2 separate regions of the Homo sapiens genome follow, and region 2 is linked to region 1. A link means that fine-mapping ties the variant in region 1 to the plasma level of a protein whose gene starts in the linked region. Region 1 holds a variant in brackets. A gene starts in the other region. All regions are shown on their reverse strands.

Region 1 (8,000 bases):
GATATGAAAACTACATGCAATGTGAGAGCCTGGAAGAAAAAAGACATGAGTAGGAAAACTGGTGAAATTAAAATAATGCCTGTAGATTAGTTAATAACATGAATTTCCTGGTTTCCATGATTGTACAATGGCTATGGAAGATGTTAACATTAGGGAACCTGGGTGAAGGGCATTTTTTCTGTAAGTAAAAATTCCACTTTTGCAATTTTTTTCTGTAAGTAAAAATTTATCTCAAAAAAATTTTTAATGTATGTTCACAAAGGAACATTAGGAAACAGTAGCAGAAAAATTTCAACCGTAATCCTGCAATTAAAAACAACTGCTGGCCAGGCTTGGTGGCTCACGCCTGTAATCCCAGCACTTTGGGAGTCCCAGGTGGGCAGATCATGAGGTCAGGAGATCGAGACCATCCTGGCCCACATGGTGAAACCCCGCCTCTACTAAAAATTCAAAAATTAGCTGGGCGTGGTGGCACATGCCTGTAGTCCCAGCTACTCCGGAGGCTGAGGCAGGAGAATCTCTTGAACCTGGGAGGCGGAGGTTGCAGTGAGCCGAGATCTCACAACTGCACTCCAGCCTGGCGACAAAGCGAGACTCCGTCTCAAAAAAAAAAAAAAAACGAAAACAACAACAACAAAAAAAACCTGCTTATGCAGATATTGATTTGGCAAAAGAAAAAAACTTGTCAATATGCTGATTCTTTTAGTTATTAATAATGCAAGGAAAGTGTTCTGAGCACTGACTAAGCTCAAAGCACCTCTCTTTGAGCACTCCAATCTTATGTAAAATTGCCATCCTCCTACTCCAGATACCCCTCCTCCATCCCTACTGTAAGAATTAAGGAAAGAGGAAAGAAACATGAAAGCTGGCTTGGCAGTCAAGGACAGGTTTATTTTAGAGAGGGGCAGCTGTCTGAGTTAGGTCAGAGGCACACACTTACAGACTAAGAGTTTTTAAGGATTCAGGGTGGGAGAGTTTAACAGAGGCTTGGACTGCTTCTGTGTCTTTTTGTTGTGCCTATCTGGAAGGGAGAGTTTCTGTGTCTGTTCCCATACATCTTTCTGCAGCCTCAGGCATACTCCCCAAGTCTGCTTTTAGCTTTCCTATCTTAGTGCACCTGAAGGGAAAAGAATGTGCTTATTAAGGCTCACTGTTTTACTGGGGCCCATTTTATGAGGGTGAAGTTTGGCAGTTGCCAGAGAAACTTTCCGAACACCTCCCTCTCTGCCCGAGCTGTCTTATCTGTGTTTTATCTGTGTTTTATCTGTGTTTTACTGTCTACTCTTTCTGGCTGTTTGTAGTGAGAAGAGAAATGATTTCCTTGAAATGCATGAGGCTAGAAAGGGAGCTGGAACTTAAAGTGGTGGTGTTTGTCCGAGATGACGGTGCTCCTGCCCTGTCACCTACTGCCTCTCTCCCCATTGCAGTGTCACCACCTATCACATGATGTCATTTACTAGTATGTCTTTTGCTGATTGTCTGTCTCTTTCTGCTTAAGCGGAAGCCCTGTGAAAGTAGAGGTTTCTGTTTGGCTTACTGAGTCCAAGGGCTTGGATTAGGTCTGGGATGGAAGATGAACAAGAGGCCAATTCATGGACTTTGAATTCCTGTAAAACAGCCTGAAATGATGGGAAAAGGAGAGGCTCTATCCGACGTCACCAGAGTCCTTGAGCGTTGGAGTATTTCTTTCAACTGAAGCCTGGACCAGGGCTATCCAGATATACAGAGAGGGAGGCGGTTCTGCCTATTGGAGGAACTACTGTTTCCGAAAGTGCAATGTTTAACAAAGGCAGTGGTCTACCCCGGGGGGTTGAGACCTCTGAACCCTGACGTGGCCATAAAGCCAACTGCTATAGGACTGGCAACCCAGAATAAGAAGAGTGAAGGAAGCCAACAGAGATCCCTGGAGGTTGTGTTAGTTTGCTTCGGCTTTGTATTAGGTACTTTGTGGCTTACACAACAGACATTTTATTGTCTAACAGTTCCAGTGGCAGAAATCAAAGGGCCCAACAGGGTTGATTCCTTCTGAGGGCTGTGAGGGAGAATCTGCTCCATCCCTCTCTCCTAGCTTCCAGTGTTTTCTGGTAATCTTTGCCATTCCTTGGCTTGTAGAAGCTTCACCCTGATCTCTGCCTTCATCTTTGTATGGCCTTCTCCCAGTGTGCCTGCCTGTCTCCAAATTTCCCATTTTTGTAATGACATCTGTCATCTTGGATTAGGGCCCATCCTAGCTGCCCTAGTGATCTCCTCTTAACTAATTATATCTGCAATGACCCTATTTTTAAATAAGATCACATTCTAAGGTACCGGGACTCCAACACAGGAACTGAGAGCAGGAAGGAGGACCACAGTCCAACCCCTTACACAGTCGAGCACTGGAGGTAAATGGTATTCTCGAGAGGAAAGCTGTTTGATGGCTCTTGGGATAGATTAGGTTATGCTCCAGCAACTGCCCATCTCAATTATCATCAGCTTAATACAACAAAAGTCTATTTCTCACTCACACTAAGACCCCTGTGAGCTGCAGGACTTTCTAGGACAACTGTCTTCCGTGCCATGATTCTTACACCCCAGATTGCTTTCATCTTCTGGTTCTACCAGTGGGGCAGGGAAGGGCTGGGGAGTTGCATCTCATAGTCCCCTTGCTGGAGAAACCTGGAAGTGACCCTTCATACCAGTGCTCATGTTTTACCAGTCAGCAGCAGGGCCCTAGGTCTCCATCCCTGCAAGGGGCTCTAGAGTGTAGGGAACAGATGGAATGTTCACAAGCACCACAGCCCCTGCCACAGTGACTTTTTTAGGACTGGTATCGCAGAGTGTTTACTTAAGGCGGTGGAAGCTAAATTCTTAGCATGTGCTGGAGAGCAATGAAAAAGATATTTACTTTATGAATTAAAGCTGGAGTCAGTGTCAGCCCGAAGGCTGAAGGAAAAAGAGCAACAGATCCAGGGAGCATTCACCTGCCCTGTCTCCAAACAGGTGAGGATGGGGAATAAAGTGAAGGCAGTGCTTTGGTGGGAACTTCAAGGATAGCCTCTGGCTTTTTCCAGGTTTAGAAGCTCATATGAGACAGGGGTGGAGGAAAAGAAGAAAGAAGAATAAGAAGAGAAAGTTGAGGCCCTGGCCCAAGTTAGTGGGAAGGGAAATCCACCCCCATTAAACTCTCTCCCTGGTGGACTGTGGGGTGCACACGTGAGGCCTGCACAGGTGCTGGAACATGGTAGAGGCCCAGGACATACTTCCTGTGAATGAATGATTGAGCGGCTGAATGAATGAGTACCACTAAAAGCCCTCTTTTCTATTCCCAAATGCCACATTGAGCAGAAGGGAGCAATCCTTGCTCAGCAATTGGTAGTCCCTTTGGGTGTGCAAATGAGTCCACAGCCTGCAACAGCAGACAGTCTCTGCCCCCCTTAGAGGCGATTGCAGGGAGGTGGCTGACCGTTGATCACACCCAGAGCTGGTTATGGGAATTTACTCCATGGAAAGACTGCAAAACTGCCTGAAATGTGTTTTGGCATCAGCTACTGACACGTAAGGTTTCCCAATCCTCAACTCTGTCCTGCCAGCTGATGAGGGGAAGGAAAGGGATTACCTAGGGGTATGGGCGACCAATCCTGAGTCCACCAACTGACCACGCCCATCCCCAGCCTTGTGCCTCACCTACCCCCAACCTCCCAGAGGGAGCAGCTATTTAAGGGGAGCAGGAGTGCAGAACAAACAAGACGGCCTGGGGATACAACTCTGGAGTCCTCTGAGAGGTAAAGAGCCAGCGAAGCTGATGTCCTGTCAAGAGCAGAATTCCTGCTCATTCGCTGCCTTTGAGAGTGGCTGTGTTGTGCATGCATGTGCATGATTTGATATGTATGAGAGGGTGTGTGTGCATGAGTGTGTTGAGTGAGTATGTGAGTGTAGTGTAAGAGAGGATGTTGGCACTATCAGGTAAGTACGAGAGTGTGTGTATGTGGGCATAGGTGTGTTAACATGTATGTGTTTGGGAACTTGTGTATGTGGAAGGGGTTAGAAGGCCTAGAAGAGAGAGGTTGATGCTTTCATTCTGGAGGAAAATACTGAGGCCGAGCCTCCATGGGTGCCTTGGAGACTCCAAGCCTTGAATCCAGTGTGGGGATATGCAAGCTATGTCTAGCGAGGGACACATCCTCTGACCTCAGGAACCTCCCAGGTAGTTGGGAGGAACCTGGTTCCAACCTCCCAAGAACTCTCAGTCTGATGAGGTACAGGGGAGGTCTCATTAGTGTATCATGGGGTTCTCCACAGGTCTGAGGGCCTGATGTGTGTGAAACCATTCTGCAGAGCTGGGAACGGGTCAGGAGGTGGTTGTGTGTGTGTGTGTGTGTGTGTGTGTGCATTGCTGGAGGGCACTCCTTGTGTGCTCTGAGTGTGACAGAGGAAGTCACCCTGGACTTAGGTTGGATGGGAGAGCATGTCTGTGTGTCTCAGAGCCACCAAGGAGGAGCAGGGGAGCGACGGCCGGGGCAGAAGTTGAGACCACCCAGCAGAGGAGCTAGGCCAGTCCATCTGCATTTGTCACCCAAGAACTCTTACCATGAAGACCCTCCTACTGTTGGCAGTGATCATGATCTTTGGTAAGAGCTGACCCTGACCTCTGAGCATGGGGGGACAGCCCCAGAAGGGAAGCACTCTTGTCCCTTAGTTTTCTCTCCCATTGCAGTGATCCTCTCTCAGGGGGAAAAAAGAAGCCATTTGGGAGGAAGGAGAGTAGCAGAGAGGGGCAGAGAGGGAGGGCGCAGAACCCCATGCCCCATCACCAGACAACTCCCAAATTTCCTTCCAGGCCTACTGCAGGCCCATGGGAATTTGGTGAATTTCCACAGAATGATCAAGTTGACGACAGGAAAGGAAGCCGCACTCAGTTATGGCTTCTA[C/T]GGCTGCCACTGTGGCGTGGGTGGCAGAGGATCCCCCAAGGATGCAACGGATCGGTGAGGCCACCTATCCCTCCCTACCCTCCTAGACTCTGGCCCAGGCAGGGCTGGGAGCTGCAAAGACAGTGCCGGTTCCTGATGGGCGCAGAGGTCTCAGGATGGCCTGGCTGGAAAAGCAGCCGGCATGTTGGAACTTCTGCTCTAGACTGTTGCAAAGTCACTGGGTCTCTGCCCAGGGTCCAAGGGGGTGAGACCACAGGCACCAGGCCTCCTGGAGCTGTGGGACAAGAGCCCCAACAGGGTGTCTCCTCACAGCTGCTGTGTCACTCATGACTGTTGCTACAAACGTCTGGAGAAACGTGGATGTGGCACCAAATTTCTGAGCTACAAGTTTAGCAACTCGGGGAGCAGAATCACCTGTGGTAAGAGTCCTACCTCACCATCGAGTGGCCCTCATTTGTTTAGACAGTGCTGGGGACTGTGCTGGGCACCAAAGATAGACACAGAGGGACACAGTTCCTGCTTCAGGAAGCTCACGGTTGAGTGGGAAGCCAGGAAAGTGAAAATCCAATGTAGTAAAGACTCCAGTGGGAAGTAAACAAACAGATAAGGCATTAACACAGCCTGAGGCTTGAGGAAGGCTCCTGGAAGGGGTGACCCCTAAGCTGAGTCTGAAAGGCTGTGCAGAGAGTCAGGGAAGAGGAGGGAGCATTCCCAGAAGAGGACACAGCATGGTCAAAGGCACTAAAGGGCACTGTAAGCCATTCTGTACTGCCCAGCAGAAACATGAGGAAGAGGAGCAGTGCTGAGCCATGATGCTGGAGACATAGGAAGGAGCTAGGTCAATCCGGCCCTCCAGGCCGGGCTGTATTTAGGTTTTGCCCTAAAGCAATAGGATGCTATTAAGCAAAGGAGCTACAGGGTCAGATTTGCATTTTAGATGACTCACTGTGGGGACAGGGTCGATGGAGACAAGTGGAAGGGGGGCAGAGAAAGCTATTGCCATCATGCAGGCAAGAGGGAGTAACATCTTGACATAAAACAATGGAGGTCAGGATGGGAAAGGTGGAGAAAAAATCAAGATGCATTTGAGATGGAATCAGCTGAACTGGTGACTGAGTTGGGAGGGATGGGGAGAGGGAGTTGTTGGATGGATATGTGGCTGCATGGATGGCACAACTGTGATAAAGACCATGGGAGCAGGTCATGGTGGAGGGTGGGGAGGAGCAGTTCTATTTCCAGCATGTTGAGTTTAGGGGCCTCCAGCACCCAGGGAGGGGTCCAGCAGGCAGCTGTCTATACAAATGCAGCTCAGGGGAGAATTCAGGACTGGGACACAGATTCAGAAGCCAGCAGCAGAGACCTGAGAGGTGGGTGTGATCACTCATTTGCTGTTTAAAGGCCCAGAAAGGAGACAGAGAAGGGATGGACAGAGAGGGAGAAGGGGAACTGAGCGAGAAGGTCAAGGAGTCAGTAAGGAAATGGTTAGCAAGGGCCAAGTGAACAGGGAGTCCTCCATGAAAAGGGCCAACAAGGCTCCCCTGGATGTTGAGGCAGAAACGCATGAGGGACTCAGGGGAAGCTGTTTCCATGGAGTCGGGAGGGCAAAGCCAGATTAGACCAGGTGGGGGCTGATGGGAAGGCAAATAAAGACAGGAGGCAAAGACAACATTCTGGAGAAAGTTTGGCCCTGAAGGGGAGGAGAGGTGGGTGGCACTGGAAGGCTTTGCTTGGTGTCCCCAGACAGCTGACTCATGAGTGGGATTTGGAAAAAGCGTGGACTCCTGCCCATGGCCTGAGTCCTTTAAGATCAGAAATTATGTCTCCCATCATGGCCTCTCCATAGAGGCATGTATCTTCAGCAGGCGTTAGGTCACAAGCCACATGATGCCAAGCTGACAGTGGCTTGCATAATGGGGATATGTGACTGTCGCATAACTAGAATTCTGGAAGAGTGCAGTGCCAGGCTTGGGGCAGCTTTCCAGCCATGTCATTAAGAATCCAGCCTTCTCCTGGCCTTCAGCTATGCCACGTGGCCAGTGTCTACACCTGGGATGTCAAGAGACAGGCTGCAGGTCCACCCTCCTGGCCTCATACTATGGAAGAGGCTTTCCTTTTGGGCATCTCTCTTTTTGGAGGGAGGAAATAGATCGTTCCCAGAAGCCCCCAGCAGACTTCCCCTTGTTGCTCATTGGTTGGAACAAGGTTACATGATACACAAAGACCAATCACTGCAAAGGAAAAAGGGATGACCCTGCCTGGCTTACACCAATCACAATCTATTCCCAGACCCCCGAGGCTAGGGCTTTGCCTCCTGGACACATCTGTTAGCAAGAGGAAGAGATTATGGCTGTTAGGAAGGCCTTTGAGAAAGTATCCCAGTGCCTGGCTGTGTCTCCACCAGGCTGGAGGCCAGCATCCCAAGGGCAAGAATTCTGTCTCCCCATTGGTCAGAAATATCTGGAGCGCAGGTGTTTGTCTCCAACTAGGAGCTTCTGGAGGACAGGGCTGTGTCTTCTACCCCAGGGTTCCCACAAGAAGCCACTGAATATTAATAAACTCCCATCTTGTGTTTATTTTCTTATGATTTCAGCAAAACAGGACTCCTGCAGAAGTCAACTGTGTGAGTGTGATAAGGCTGCTGCCACCTGTTTTGCTAGAAACAAGACGACCTACAATAAAAAGTACCAGTACTATTCCAATAAACACTGCAGAGGGAGCACCCCTCGTTGCTGAGTCCCCTCTTCCCTGGAAACCTTCCACCCAGTGCTGAATTTCCCTCTCTCATACCCTCCCTCCCTACCCTAACCAAGTTCCTTGGCCATGCAGAAAGCATCCCTCACCCATCCTAGAGGCCAGGCAGGAGCCCTTCTATACCCACCCAGAATGAGACATCCAGCAGATTTCCAGCCTTCTACTGCTCTCCTCCACCTCAACTCCGTGCTTAACCAAAGAAGCTGTACTCCGGGGGGTCTCTTCTGAATAAAGCAATTAGCAAATCATGTATATGTGTGTGTGTATGCATTGCCCTATGCACTGTTAGCATGAGAACAAACAGGGGTAGGGGTTAAAAATACAGGCTCTGAGTCTGGTGTA
Region 2 (14,736 bases), not on the chromosome of region 1:
AGCAAGACACAGAGGCCCGTAAATGTTACCAATAGTTACTAGAAACTAACTTTGACAAGCTGATATTTCAGGGCCTTGGCCCTTCAGCATATTGACTTGGAAAATTAACCTGGAGCCCCTACAGGACTGAGCCCAGTGCCTGGTGTCAGCCCAGCCACCTATCAGGGACCAGGCAGACTGTGACAACCATGACACAGTTCCCTTTTCGTCGCACTATGGGAGCATGTGGTTGAGGGAAATGGGGAAGCCAAGGTCTAAGGGCTTCCCAAGCCACTGCAAGTATAAACTAGAGACACTCTTTGAGAACCCCAAATTTAAAATCATTTAGCTGGAAGTTGTTCACATTTCATAAAATCTGTATTTCACCCCAGGACCTTTTAAACCTCCCTAGGCATTTAAAGTGGGGATTATACAGCGTTTATGAAACAGTGTGCCCCAAAGAAAGATGCGTACACAGGATTATGCAGTGTGACTGTCATTATGTGAAAGTTTCTGTGCACGGGCACAGGCTGGACTGGTTCTGGGAAGGATGGAAAGTTCCATGTGCCCCTTTTTCTCTTCAGTGATGCTGTACTGTCTTCAGAATGGTATCATTTGTTTGGTTCTTTGCTTATTTTTGCTTGTTTGTTTGTTTTTTTGTTTGTGAAATGGGAGTTGAAATGGCCTCAAACAGACCTAGGCACCAAATCCAATTTTCCAGTCAAATTAATTATGAGTTCCTGATGCAGCATTCAAGGCTCTCCGCAATACCCTCTTGCTGCCCACACTCCCTGTGTATACTCTACCTCCCATCAAACCAGCCAGTCCCTGACTCATCACATGTGTTCTGACCTCAGGCTGGACCTCAGCTGCCCTGTCCCTGCGGGTCACCTTCACTCACCCCTCTCTACCTGAGCAGTCTTCCTCATCCTTCAAGGTCTATTTCCACTACCTGCTTCATGAAAGCATTCCCAATCCCCAACCTGGATGGGACTGCCTTACAGCCCCCCATCTGGAATCCTCGCATCCGTAACTCATTTGAAGTATTCTCTCAGCCTGCTGGCAAGGGCCTCTCTGGCCTGCAGACATCCTGCCGAGCCTCTGGCCCGCAGCCCCCGCAGCCCTGCAACCCCGGCACAGAGCAGGCACTCAGCAAGGGCTCAACTTGGTGTTTATAGAGGATTTTGCTTACCAGAATAAAATAAACCCCCCATTTCAGGCCAAGGATGGCAACTTGGATAATCATGTTTTTCATCCCAATCCAAATGGATTTCCACATGTGTTAGTGGCTTTTTTTCCTCCACAGGATAAACAAATTTAGTCTCTTTGTGATAGCTCAAATACATGTTTAAAGAACTGCCCCCAAATGTTTCATCTTCAAAGACAAAAACTCAGGAAAAACTTGTACAATACTTCTGTTAGTCCAGCTGAAACAGTAGCTACAAGAACATTAATTCTCCGGCCTCTGCCTTCTTCCTTGGACACTGGACCGTCAGCCACGACACCAGGAGCAAACCCGCCCTGCTTTCCGTGGTTCTGAGCCTCTTGAATTCGGGCCTCCGCCAACACACAGCAGGACATCTAGCCTTACACAGGGGCCCGTTCTCAGAGTCCCCATACCACACTTTCCCTCCTGCCCTCTCTCTCTAGCATCCACATCTGGTTTCCCTTCAGCACAAGTTTCACAATGGACAGATTTTGCACTTCCAGGATTTATGGTTCCTGCTGCCCCTCCTTGCTTTTGATATGATTCCATTATGTGCTTAAAATCTGGGCCGCACTCTTGGCTCTGGGGAGCTGTTTATGACAATTCTTTTATGGCCTTAAATCGCTCACCGTTAAGAACCTGATCATGTTCAGAGGCAATGACTAGTTGCTAAGAAAGAAAATTGCAACATGTCTCAGATGGTTGCTTGAAAAGTTTTCTTCATAGAAGATTCATGAAGGCTAGTATTTACCTGGCAGGTAAATCCTCTGAGGAACACCTTGGACCCTGTTCTCCTCCATCAGCTGCCAGAGACTGATTAAAAGCAAATTAGTCACAATCTTCTCACCCCAGACCCAATCACTTCCTCCCTTCTGCTGTGCTAGAGACCACACTGACAGAATTGGTAAAAATAAAAACACCAATATCACAAACACTCCCTCTTGACAGCAAACGAGACTGAGAACATTTTTTCTTTTCCATCTGTGCATTACATTTTTTCAGAAGGCAAAGAATTTCAGGAATAAGAAGACAAAAACTTTTATGAAAGACAGGGCATGGTGGCTCACACCTGTAGTTCCAGAATTTTGGGAAGCTTAGATGGGCAGATTGCTTGAGCTCAGAAATTCAAGACACGCCAGGGCAACATAGTGAGATCCCCGTCTCTACAAGAAAATTTAAAAACTAGCCAAGGGTAGTGGCATGTGCCTGTAGTCCCAGCTGCTTGGGAGGCTGAGGTGGGAGGATCACTTGCGCCTGGGAGGCAGAGGTTGCAATGAGCTGAGATCACACCACTGCACTCCAACCTGAGTGACAGAACAAGACCCTGTCTCAAAAAAACAAAACAAAACAAAAAAAATACAATGCCCTGACCTTTGGGCAAGAACTTCCCTGAACCAAGGTTTCTCTTGCCTCCCATCTCCCTCTCTGCCATCCTTCTTTCGTCCAGCAGCCAGACAGATCTTCTCATAAGGCAAAACCGAATCACACAACCCTGCTTGAAATTCTCCAATGGCTTCTTATAATCCAGGTGATGAAGCCCAAACTCCTCAGCTGCCCAGGACCCTGCACAATTTGGTGCTGATCTACATATTCAGCCTAATCACCCTTCCCTCCCCTGCCCAGATCCCTGCCCTACACACACAGGGCTCCGTTAGCATCCTACAGTTTCCTTGACCTTCCCCATCCCATAGCAGTTGTTTAAGCTGTTGTCTCTGCCTGAACCATCCTCCTCAATGCCTGCTTCCCTATCAGAGCACGAATGCCCACTGTGCCCTATGAGAGCTTAGCAGTGTGCCTAGCCTTTCTCTCCCCACATTCCGCCCATGGCAGACCCAGAAGGCTCCATGTCTGTGTCTGAGATCACTGCAGAAGACTCCTTGGACCACCACATTACCACCCTCTGGTACTGGATGTAGGGTTGCCAGTTAAAATACAGGCCACAAGTTAAATTTGAATTTCAGTATAAACAATGAATAATTTTGAGTATAAGTATGCCGTAAATATTGCATGGGCATTTTGTATTTTTTGTTTGTTAAAGTTGACAATCCTAGCTGGTTGAGAACTCTGGGATGCCCTCCAGGGAGAAGAACTGAGGACCAGGTGGCAGCAGCATGCAGACAGGAAGGTAGTGGGTGACACCTGGGCAAAAGGTAGGGAGCGTCCCCCCACCCTCCTCCTGGGAGGCAGCGTATGGCCGTGCAGAGCAGGACTCCAGAGTCAGATTGCTTGGGTTTGAATCTCAGCTCTGCCACTTGGTAGTTATTTTGGGCAACATACTTAACCTTCTCCTCAGTTTCCTCATCTGTAAAATGGGGATAACCTACTTTGTGTGGTTATGAAAATTAAATAAATTAATATTTGTATAGCACTTAGAACAGTCCTTGAGACATAGTAAGCATTCTATAAGCATTTCATAAATATAAAGCAAAAGAAATTAGCCAAGCCAACCCACAGATAAGGGGAGTGAGTCTACGAGATTTAATAATCATAAAACAAGAATGAACATTTATGGAACACTTACTATGTGACAAGATACTGTGCAACATGTTTGTTCTATATCAGCTCATTTAATCCTTATCACAGCCTGATTATTTATTATTATTATTATTATTATCTTCTTTTTACAGATGAGGAAGCAGAAGCACAGAGTGATAGACTAGTACTCTAGACCAGGAAGTCTGACTCTGTAACACACTAGACTGTGATAAACTGTGATCCACATTAATTCATTCATCCTGCATTCGTTCATCCTGCATTCAATCATTTCTTCATTGAGCACCTACTGTGTGCCCGGCCCTGTGCTCAAGCTGGGGAACTAGAATTAATAAGAAAGACACAGAGCAACCTCAGAGGATCATGGACCTGAAAGAAGACCTCATAGGAGCCTTTACAAGTGTGAGGAGTGGCACTGGAGACAACAAGGTCTACGAGCCACGCGGACAGCAGGTGCCTCTCCTACCCTGGGGCTAGGACGGGAGTCAGGCAGATGTGTGCAGTCAAGGAGGGCTTCCCTGTAAAATGACATCTTCGCAGTTTCAGGAAGGCAAACGAAAGCAAACAGCCTAGCCAAGGAGACAGGACTTGGCGGTGCCTGCACAGAGGCCTAGGACTCTGCTGCAAACATGGAACAGGGCTGGTGAGAGAGGCAGGAGGTGGGGCAGAGCAGAATGAGGACAAGTGAGGCCGGATGGAGGGGCTGCTTGTTCCCCTGTGCCAAGCAGTGGGGGACAGCTCTAAAGATGGGCCTAGACCCTCACCATGGGACTCACCCAAGCCACCAACAACTCTACCTGCCTCTCTGCAGTGCCACCTGCACAGCACAGGTGCTCATCGCCCATCGCCAGCGTCTGCTCAGTGAGGCTGAAGGCTGCCCAAGCCCTCGCTGAATCAACTGCTCCTGAGTTGCTGTTATAACAAGAACATTCTGAAAAACTGGAAAGCAAGGAGAGAAGCTTTACAACAACAATGCCCAACATTTCGCCACTCAAAGAGAATGACGTTTGTAACTCTGTCTTGCCATCCTTTGTACAGAGGTTACTGTTTTGCATACTTATAATCACAGTGTTTACACAACCTTGTGTTTTTTCTACTTACTGCATAAGCATTTACTCCACAAATTTAGAGCTTTCATTGTTTTCTTAATCCCCCATTGTTGGGCATTTAGTTTAAATCTTTATTTTTAACAAGGACTAGCTTTGCATGTGGTATTTCTCCATTATGAGAATTTTAAACAGATTTCTGAAGTGGTTAATAAGATGAAATGGTTTACTTCAAACAGTCTGGATACCATACTATAAATATAACTTCCCCAAATTTTGTACCAATTGATAGTCCCATGAGTGATGCTTAAGTGATGCTTCCTCACTTTACCATTATCAGCTTTGGATGTTGCTATTTAAAATAAACATTTCCTCATTGAGTGGGACCAAAACCAAAATGCCGTGATCCTGCAGCACTGCTGTGCTTTTCCTTCATTGCCAAAGAGGATGCATGTTCTTTGATGAATTGGTTAATTGCCTTTCTTTTTCTCCTGAATTGTCCTTTGATGTCCTTTGCTCATTTATATGTTAGGGCCCTCTTCGGAAATATCTTTGCATGTGTTCTTAATATAATAAAGATGCTTGCCTGTAAGGGAGTGTTGTTGGATGAATAGATGGTGGAATAAATGCTACTTGTTGGTTTGTCATATTTGCTGCAAGCATTTTCTCCCATGTTTAGGGGAATCTTGCAGTGCCCCCTGTGACCCATCTGAGTAACAGAGCCCCCCTACATACACTCTGCCTCGGGGCTGCTTTAAGCCTAATTCAATACTGCCTGGCTGTCCCCCACATCATTTTCTCTGGGCTTAAGTTACTCAGGATCTCTAAATATTTGCAGTGTGAAGAACAAAACCAGAGGTTGTTCTTGGGAACCTTGGTCCTTCAACTTCCTTCACCCCAGAGCATGGCCAGGGAAGGGGTCAGCATGCAGGGCTGTAGCTGAAAGAAAGCTGCACAGAGGAGGCAGCTGGCTGCCCAGACTCCACAGGCTGCAGGTGAACAGACAGAGGGAGGAGCTGGAGAGGGAGAGGCACCCGCCAGGCTTGGATTCAGAGCCAGCAGCCACACAACACAATGGAAGCAGGTATTTTGGGGTGACCCACCATGTCATGAGTGGTGATGGGGCCAGACAGGTTACTGGAGCCCAGGATCTTGCTCTGGCCTAAGTAGCTAGGTACAGGACACAGAGACAGGAGGCTGGCTAACATTAATGCACAGGGAGATCTTGTATGCAGTCAACCCCATTGCTGGGCCTCAGTTTCCTCATATGTACAATGAAGGCCAGTTGTGGCCTCAGCCTCTACCAGTGCTGAATTCTAGGATTCCTGTCCTGCCAGGGAAGTAAAAAGGACTCCTCTTCTGAAAAGAAGGTCAGTCACGAAAAGAACTAAAAGAATGGGGGAAGGAATTGCCCTGGATCCCAGCTCCCAGGGCAGAAAACCAGCCTTGACCAGTCAAGACCCCTTTCTAAGCAGACCAAGGAGGTAGTGCCCAGACACCTGTGGGATTTCCTGGAAAGTCACACTCCTGTTATCACCACCTCCTCTTCCCAGAGACTTCATCTCTAAAACAAATGCCCTGAGGATGAACTGGCTTCCCTGGGAATATGGACTCCCCATGGCCACCCCTACACACACGCAAACACACACACACACACACGCACACACACTTTCTCACATGCAACCTTGTAGCCTGTGCAGCCTGGATTCAGCAGTACTCTCACATGCTGAGCTGTTGCCTGAAACATGTTTTTATTTACTCCACAGATAGGGAGTGAACCCCTGCTACATGCCAATCACTGTTGTAGATACTGAGGATGAGCAAGACAGACACCCACAGACACAGACAGATCATCCACAATGCACCCCCAAATAAATATGAAAATGTACAATTTGAGGTTGCTGCACATACAATGAATAAACTAAAATCGGTGGCAACACAGAGAGGGACTGTTGTTGGGGGTATGCTCGTGGGATTAGAACTGGATGGTGAATATTGGAGCCCAGGCTCACTGAGGAGAAGAGGGTTGCCTGTCAGCCCCTGGGGAGGAGCACTGCAGGTGGAGGGGCCAGTGAGCACAAAGACCCTGAGGTGGGAACAGGCTTGGATGTTTGAAGGTAAGACAAGGCAGAGTATCTGGAGCACAGCCTGTGGGGAGCATGGCAGGTGCTGGTCATGATTGGGTGCGCACTGCTGGGGACTTGGCTTCCACTCTGCATGAGATCGGGAGCCAGTAAAGGGTTCAGAGCAGGGACTTCCCCCAGGAGATCACTGTGTGAGCAGCAGGGACCATGAAGGGCCAGGAGTGGCCTCCCTCCTGTGGTCACTGGTTAATTCCTTTCCATCCTTCATATCTAACTCAATGGCCCTTTCCTCCAGGAATTTGTCCCCACCTCGTCACCCTGTCAGATCCCCTGATGAGTCTCCTAGCACCAACCACCCTCCAGGACACTGACCTCTGCAGGAGTTTCACACTGATCTCTGTGGTTTATAGCTAATGTCTGCCTTCCCCACTAGACTCTGAGCTGCTTGGGGACAGGCACACAGCTGCCTTGGCTCACCTCAAACCCCCAGCACCTCGTACAACGCCTGGGACACAGTGGGTGCTCAATAAATGTAAAGAGAAGAAATAAGCAAATCCCTGGGGTCTCAGCAAAATTTCCACTCCCTCAAGGAGTGATGTCCTGTTTCCACTTCCTCCCTCCTCTGTGCCCCCACACTTCACGTCTACCTCTTCTGTAGAATCCAGTATGACCATGAATGTGTTGACATCTGCACACATGCATACACACACACAGGCAAGGCATGTGTGCTGTCCTTCACTGTACCCCAGGGACCTCCTTGAAGCAGACAGTGCCACTGTACAAAGAACGGCCTCACACATGCCCACCTGCTCAGAGGCCCTCGGCTTGGGCTCACTAGACAGTCTGTGCCCTGAAGGTGTGTCAGGGGCCAAGCCCCCTCCCTCACCCAGTTAGGCAGCATCCCCCACAGACCTGCTGGCAGCAGGGGCCTCATGCTCTCCTGTACCATGGCTCCAGAAGAACTCACACAAACAAGGGCTCAGCTCTGCTTGCACAGTGGCTGCCTTCTGCAAACCAGAGATCTGCATACACAGACTGAGGAGTGTAACTGAGGACAAAACACTGGGACGTCTGACCTCTGGTCCAGCCCAAGAAGCTGGGGAACGTTGGTCCATATTTCTAGAGCCAACTACTTTTTCCTGTGAAAACTCAGTGCCCACGATCGCTGGTGTTGTTAGATCCCAGTTAATCAATCAACATATTCTTGAAACAAACATGTTAGAAATAAAATCGTTAATAAAAAATAATACTTTACATGCTCTAGGAAAGCTTGGTATTTAAGAAATTCCTTTGCAGCATAAAATATATTTTTTTGGAAAGCAATTGGCAATTTCTATGAAAAGTCTTAAAATGGGCATGTGCCATGGCCCCATGATTCTATTTCTGAGGGCTGATCCAATGTATTAAAACCTACCCCAAAATGGAGCTACAAGAATATTTGTCAAACAGCATTGGTTGTAAGAGGGTAAGGTTGAAAACAATCCAAATGTCCAGCAAGGAGTAGTCAAATTAATTCTGGTACATCTGTATGACGGAATACTCTGCAGCTAAAATCATGATAACCGCAATGGTCAGCACATATCAAACACTTACTCTGTGTTGGGGACCACATTAAAAGCATTACATGCACTATCTCATTTAATTCTGCCTATGCTGTACATATTATTATCATCTCCATCTCACAGATGAGGAAACCAATACCAAATAGAGTTAAGGTATTTGCCCAAAGTCACACAGCTAGTCCCTAGGATGCATACTCAGGCAATTTGACTCCAGACACCAGCCTCTTAGCCATTATACTACCCGGCCTCAGATGAAACCATTAAGGGAGCTATTGTTGTAGCAAGGCTAGCCACATGGAGCGATGTTCACAATATGCTAATAGGTATAGCAAGCAGGTTATTAAAGACTACATGCAGCCTGATCCCATGTGTACATGTGCACACAAAGCAAAAAGAGGATGCTTTGGGAAGATTTCACCCAAGATTTTACTTGCGTGAAAATGTTAGTTTTCTTCTGCTTGGGTTTTCTGATTTTTCTGGGCAAACGTGTTGTTTCTATATTTTAAAAAATTATTTTTAGAGTTAAAAACTAACATAAATGCCAAAAGTCACTCCCTCATACTCATCTCATGCATAAATGCAAATGTCCAGCTATTGGCTTTGCTTTAGGTATAGGCACAACAGCACGCATAGGCGCTGCTTGCTTTTCATGGCTCAGCTTCTTCTTGAAGCAGCAAGGGCTCTCCAGTTGGGAAGAGACGACACAGATTCTTCCCATTGCACCCTTCAGCAGACTGTCCCCATCATCCAGAAGCCCTCTGGGCATTTTTGCCTCCAGGGAACTGCCAGGCTGATGGCATAGAGCTGGGTGAGCTCTCTCCTGACAGCCAAGCCCAGGGACTCCAAGAGCTTGAGATGATCCACCTCCTGTCTCTGGGTCTCTCAAGGCAGCAAGAAGTGAAGGGCAGACAGGCCTCAAAGCAACAGAGTGGTCCAGGGACAGGAGTCCCAGTTCTGCAGCCGTATATACTGAGGACCCTCCTGGCCTAGTCACCTGCTTCCTAGCTCTGTGACCTTGGACAAGTTATTTCTTCTCTCAGAGCATGTTTCCACACCTGTCAAATAAAGAAATTAAAAGTACCAACTTGGAAGAAAAGTACCAATTGGTAAGAATCAAAGTAATAGATAAATTAGACATAAAACGATGGTGCCAATAAGTAACATTTCCTGGGTACTGACAACATGTATGATTTCTATAGTTCTCACAGCCACCCTATCAGAAACACTGTGATGATCTGCACTTTACAGATGATGAAACAAAAGCTGAGAGCGGTAAAGTCACTTGTGCTGGAAAGTAGTGAGGAGGGAATTTCTGCCACTATGGCTGGGCTCACACCACTATACCTCGCATTCTGGCACAATGTCTAGAACATGGGAAGGCCTTCATCCAGATGGTTACCACTGTCATCGCTCTCCACTAGGGCTCTCTACCTGGCTTTGGAGAGTAGTGTGAGAGTGAGGACTCCTCCTGGTTCTCCCCACCACCCAGACACTCACACAGCCACCAGGCCACTGACCCACTTTAAGGAGCTTTCCTTTGGGAGTCACCAAAACTCCTCCCCAATACCCGTCCCCACCCCCGCATACACACACATACCCTCTTTGAGTCAGTTCCAGTGATCACAGTCAATGACTTTGCTGCTGGACAGTCTATGACAAGCCCCTGTCCAGAACTGGCCTTGTGTTCTGGCCCAGCAGGGGCCCTTGGGGGTCAGGCCTGCAGGCACTCACACTTGGCACCTGCTCCAAAACCCTTTCAGGTCTTTGAGGATCTGAGCCCTGGGCCTGGGTCTCCCGCCGGCTCGGAAAAGCTGGCCTGCCGGGCCAGAGAGAGAACCACACGATTCAGAAAAGCAGTGCCCTTCAGCAGCCTCTCCACCGTCTGGGCTCCCCAAAGGCAGAGCGGGACGCTGGAAATGTGTGCGCGCTGTGGTATGGGTGTGCAAGTGTGCGAAGGCGGCGTGTTGTGTGAGCGAGAGGGTAGCGGATGTGTGTGTGCGTGTGCGCGCGTGGCTCCGGGTGTGCGCCGCTGCGATAGCGGGTCCTTTCCCGGGGCGGGCGACGGGCGGGCTGGGAAGGTCTCCTCCCCTCACCACATTGAGAAATCTCAGTGAGTCACCGAGTGGTTCTGCATATTAATGAGCTCGCTCGCTGCGAGGGCAGGAGCGGATTTAAAAGAGGCCAGGGCGGGCGGAGGGAGGCTGTGGAGAGAGCGCGGAGACAAGCGCAGAGCGCAGCGCACGGCCACAGACAGCCCTGGGCATCCACCGACGGCGCAGCCGGAGCCAGCAGAGCCGGAAGGCGCGCCCCGGGCAGAGAAAGCCGAGCAGAGCTGGGTGGCGTCTCCGGGCCGCCGCTCCGACGGGCCAGCGCCCTCCCCATGTCCCTGCTCCCACGCCGCGCCCCTCCGGTCAGCATGAGGCTCCTGGCGGCCGCGCTGCTCCTGCTGCTGCTGGCGCTGTACACCGCGCGTGTGGACGGTGAGTGCGGGGAGCTCCCCTTGTCGCCGTCTCGTCTTGTCCTGTCCTGGGGAACCCAAGCGCCAATTTCTAGGCATCCTGGGATCCCGCGGGGGGTGGTCTGGGTGGGCACCAAGGTGGTCGAGGGGCAGGAGACCGCCTAGCAACTAAGCCGTTGCCCCGCGCTCGCTCGCAGGGTCCAAATGCAAGTGCTCCCGGAAGGGACCCAAGATCCGCTACAGCGACGTGAAGAAGCTGGAAATGAAGCCAAAGTACCCGCACTGCGAGGAGAAGATGGTTATGTGAGTTCTCGCTCCTCACCTTGAGGGGGTGCGCACTGCTGTCAACCCAATGCCAGGGCACAGCCTGGGCCTGGGTCGGGCTAACAAACATTTCTCTCCGACTTTGTCAAGGCCCTGGAAAAGCCTTTGTAATTGCCCAGAGAGTCCTTAGGACGCTGGCGAGACACTCTGGAAGACAGTCGGGAAGGGGGGTCACTGTCCCGCTCCGGAACAGCGCCTCCAAGTTCACCCTTGCTAGGATTCAAATGAGCAGTCTCCCTATTTGTACCATGGGCCACCCACTCTGCTAGGGCCATCAAGGGTTAAAGGGTTCCCTTGTGCCAACTCAGAAAACCTAGACTGAAATCACTTAAAACACACTCACACCCAAACTGTGAGGCGTGCTGCCTTCCTGTCACTGGATAGAGGACTAATGCAAACACTATCTTAAATCCTGAGTCTCCTTCAGAGCCTTGTTCCAGTCAGAGACAAGTGGACCGCAAGTTTTTGGCTCCTAGAGATTTTATTTTGAGAACGCTCCACGAGCTTCCCTCACCGACTGTACTCCTTGTGGGTCCCCAATACGGAGCAGTACTGCAGAAAGTGCTCTGCTGGGGTTAATGTGCCACATGGCTGGAGCCCTGCTTGGTGGGGATGTGGGGAATGTTGGAAAAACTGGGGCAGAGTGAGAGAACACTTAGTTTCTTGCTCCTCCGCCTTCCCAATTAACCACTTGAGGCCAGCACCGCTGCCTCCTCATCAATATGCTCTTGGCCAGGAAGGGAGCCCTTGGCAAAGCGGCTACCAAATATTTGCCACAGACCATTGGCCCCTCTTCCCCTCCCCCAGAAACAGGACGCACTTTATTCTCAGTCTGGGCAAGTGCCCTCCACCAGCTGGCCCCCACCGGCGCAAAGGCCTTCACAGTGTCTGCGAAAGCAGTGCACACCCCTACCCAGCACCCCCCATCCCCGTCTAGGGGCTACACTGTCAGGCTGAAATTAGGGGAATTCAGAAATCCACTGGAACTGAGCTGACCCCACTGCCTTCCTTCACAGACACCTAAATTAACTTGCTTGTCCCTACCCCTTGCCTTGCAGACCAAATTCAAAGAAAATACCCAAAAATCCTTTTGGGTGGGGGCCAAGTGTCAAATGAGCTGGGAAAGGAGCTCCAAGCTCCTCAGGGCTTCCAGTTTGGGGGCTAAGAATGACAGGGGAATTCCAAGTTAAATCTCACTCGTCTAAGAGCTGAAAACCACTCTATTAACCAAACAAGTTTCTGAGACCTTGCAGGGGAAGAAAGCAGGGTAAAGGATGCAGTGATACCTAAAAAGGACAGAGCCCTCAGTAAATAGGCTTGCTCTTTTCCTGGCTAAACTTTTCCACATATAGAGAAAAACTATAGCTAGGCAAGTGTGAGAAAGGCTTTACGGAGCCTTGTAGAAACGTGCAGGGGCCTCAGGAGATCAGCACACAATCCAATCACCCTCTACTAAACCTCTAACCCACCCCCTAGGGCCTCCCACTCCATCCCTGAGGGCTGGGGGCTCCTCTCCCCCTCCACAATCCTAAAACTCTCCAAATCAGATGAGGGGCCAGCACTTTTGCAAAGCAGGTTTTCAGCCACAAAGGCTGAACAAAAGCAAATTTTCCAGCTTACCCTGAGTCACCCAGAAATCTCTGCTGAGGCTGGGGGTGGGGGCAGGAGTAGGGGCGGGGGGAGAGGTCCGCTTTGCAAGTGGGAGTCCTTGCACCCAGAAGGATCCAGGAGAGTCCGAATTCTAGAAAGAGCAATTTGTGTCATAGGTCCATGGAGCTCTCACCAAAACCCTTACCCCCACCGCCAGAACTGTGGAGGAGAGGGTCACAGGACTCAGAATTTCTGATAGTTGCTGGAGTCACAAATCCCTATGTCTGCACTCCACAACCGATTTTCATAATCCCAGTATTATGACGTGGCATTTGAGCACTGTAGTGAGAGGGCTGAGTGACCCTTCCTGCTCTCCCTTCCTGCTCTCCCTGACCTTCAGGATTTGGGATGCACAGCCTGCACACTGACCTAACTGAGAAAGGGTTTTTATCAGGCATTACCACGTCCTTTCCTTCAGAATGCTAAAGCAGCCTTGTAGGCAGAAAGAGAAAAGCATTTGCTAAATTCCTGCAGGGTGACTGGGCACAGTGGGGGAGAGAGACAACCAGAGTTCACTCTGAAGCCTGGCCTGTGCTCAAGGCTAGAGGAATGACCCGGAGTCACAGAGGAGTCCAGTCAAGGCAGGCACCATCACCTGGCATCAGCAGGAAGACCCGCCCCTGCCCCAAGGAGCTTAGGCCCTAGCAGGGACCCCAGAAACCCAGAGCACGGAGAAGGGAAGAGAACAGGTTGCCTAGGAACATTATGCCCCCATTCTGGTGGCAAGATCCGATTTTCTTTCCCCATCAACTGGGAGACTGAAGTAATGGGAATCCTGTCCCTTCTAGAACTTAGCCCATATAAGCCATGACATTTTCCATTTGGTTAACAGTGGGGAACTAGCTGACCTCTGTCCCTCTCTTCTCACTCTTTCCACTCTCACTTCCAGTCTCCCCCTTTGCCCTCCAAGCCCATTCCAGCACCCCAGTCTACCATCATGGCTTGCATGGCTGTGACCCCTCAAGAAGTGGCATCCTCACCTCTCACCTTGCACTTTTCCAAATACCCTAGGTGGTCTCTTATTCCCCACAACTCCTGTCATGCCTGTGGCCTAGAGGTGCTCAGAAGTTCTGAGCAGCAGGCTTGCCTCGCCCTCCAGGCTGGAGCCCCCACAGCAAGGCTACTCTTTCCCCTTGGCCACTTCATCTTCCATGACCAATGACTAGTAACAGTAACTGTTAATTGTGCATCTACCAGGTCCTGGGTACTTTCTAAAGATTGTATCTTTTAATCATCCCAATAACCCTGTGAGATAGTCCTATTATTATACCCATTTTACAGATGGCCAAACTGGATTCAGAGAGGTTACCCAAGGTCCCACAGCCAAATTTGAGATTCAGTCCCAGGCCCTTACAGTCTGCACAACACCTGCTTCTCTACCACATGGCTAGGCTTCTGCTGGGTGTTGGGACATTGGCTGATAGAGGCCTGAGATCTTCAGGCTGTGCAGAAGAGAGGTCTTACTCTTCTGCTTAGGGGTGAGATACCTGGGACCTCCCACAAGGCCAACAAGACTTTGCCTCAGGATCAGGAGATGCCCAGCCCTGGGACAATCTGTGGTGGGTCAGAGGGAACTGGGGTTGAGGAGACAGAAATCAGAGTGTCTGCGGGGCATGTCTGAGCCTTGCCATGAGCTCCTCAAATCCAAGGACAGAGGTTTTGGCATGTGCACCTTGCTGGCATTAGCTTTCTCCACCTCCTGATCCCAGGCTCAGAGAGGCTGGGAGTCCTCTGACCTTTGTTCCCCAAAAGAGGCCTGAGCCCTGGAGACAACACACTGCATGAGGTTGGGGGTGGGAGAGACCATCCCAGACTCTCAGGACTCCCAGGGGAAAAGTGAGGGCTGCTCACTACATACAGGGTTAGGCCCTAACATGGAGTCAGAGAATAAGGGGACAACCAGAACCTTCCAAAGAGCCAGCTTGGAAGTGAG

Alleles and levels. Alleles are on the strand shown, and positions count from the first base shown. The strength of an association depends on the size of the effect and on how common the allele is.
For the plasma level of the protein whose gene starts at base 10,575 in region 2, C is the high allele of the variant in region 1 and T is the other (weak association).

The links. A credible set is the group of variants that fine-mapping cannot tell apart. PIP is the posterior inclusion probability: the model's chance that the variant is causal. The UK Biobank Pharma Proteomics Project read protein levels with antibody pairs (Olink). The fine-mapping took linkage between variants from a reference panel, not from the people measured, so its PIPs are less certain.
Region 2: it holds the start of CXCL14, and the variant in region 1 is the best candidate, but not a certain one, in a credible set for the plasma level of the CXCL14 protein (UK Biobank, PIP 0.61).

The regions. Positions count from the first base shown.
Region 1 is chr1:19,975,341-19,983,340 of GRCh38, reverse strand. It overlaps PLA2G2A (phospholipase A2 group IIA), which reads left to right and starts at 3,723. Exons shown (of 5, transcript NM_001395463.1): 1 at 3,723-3,761; 2 at 4,462-4,607; 3 at 4,817-4,961; 4 at 5,220-5,326; 5 at 7,498-7,906. The coding sequence starts at 4,568. The coding sequence ends at 7,640. RefSeq lists an enhancer at 4,580-5,079. The variant C/T (reference allele first, on the strand shown) is at 4,908.
Region 2 is chr5:135,574,830-135,589,565 of GRCh38, reverse strand. It overlaps CXCL14 (C-X-C motif chemokine ligand 14), which reads left to right and starts at 10,575. Exons shown (of 4, transcript NM_004887.5): 1 at 10,575-10,851; 2 at 11,027-11,132. The coding sequence starts at 10,788. It also overlaps a transcript of SLC25A48 not described here. RefSeq lists an enhancer at 4,322-4,823.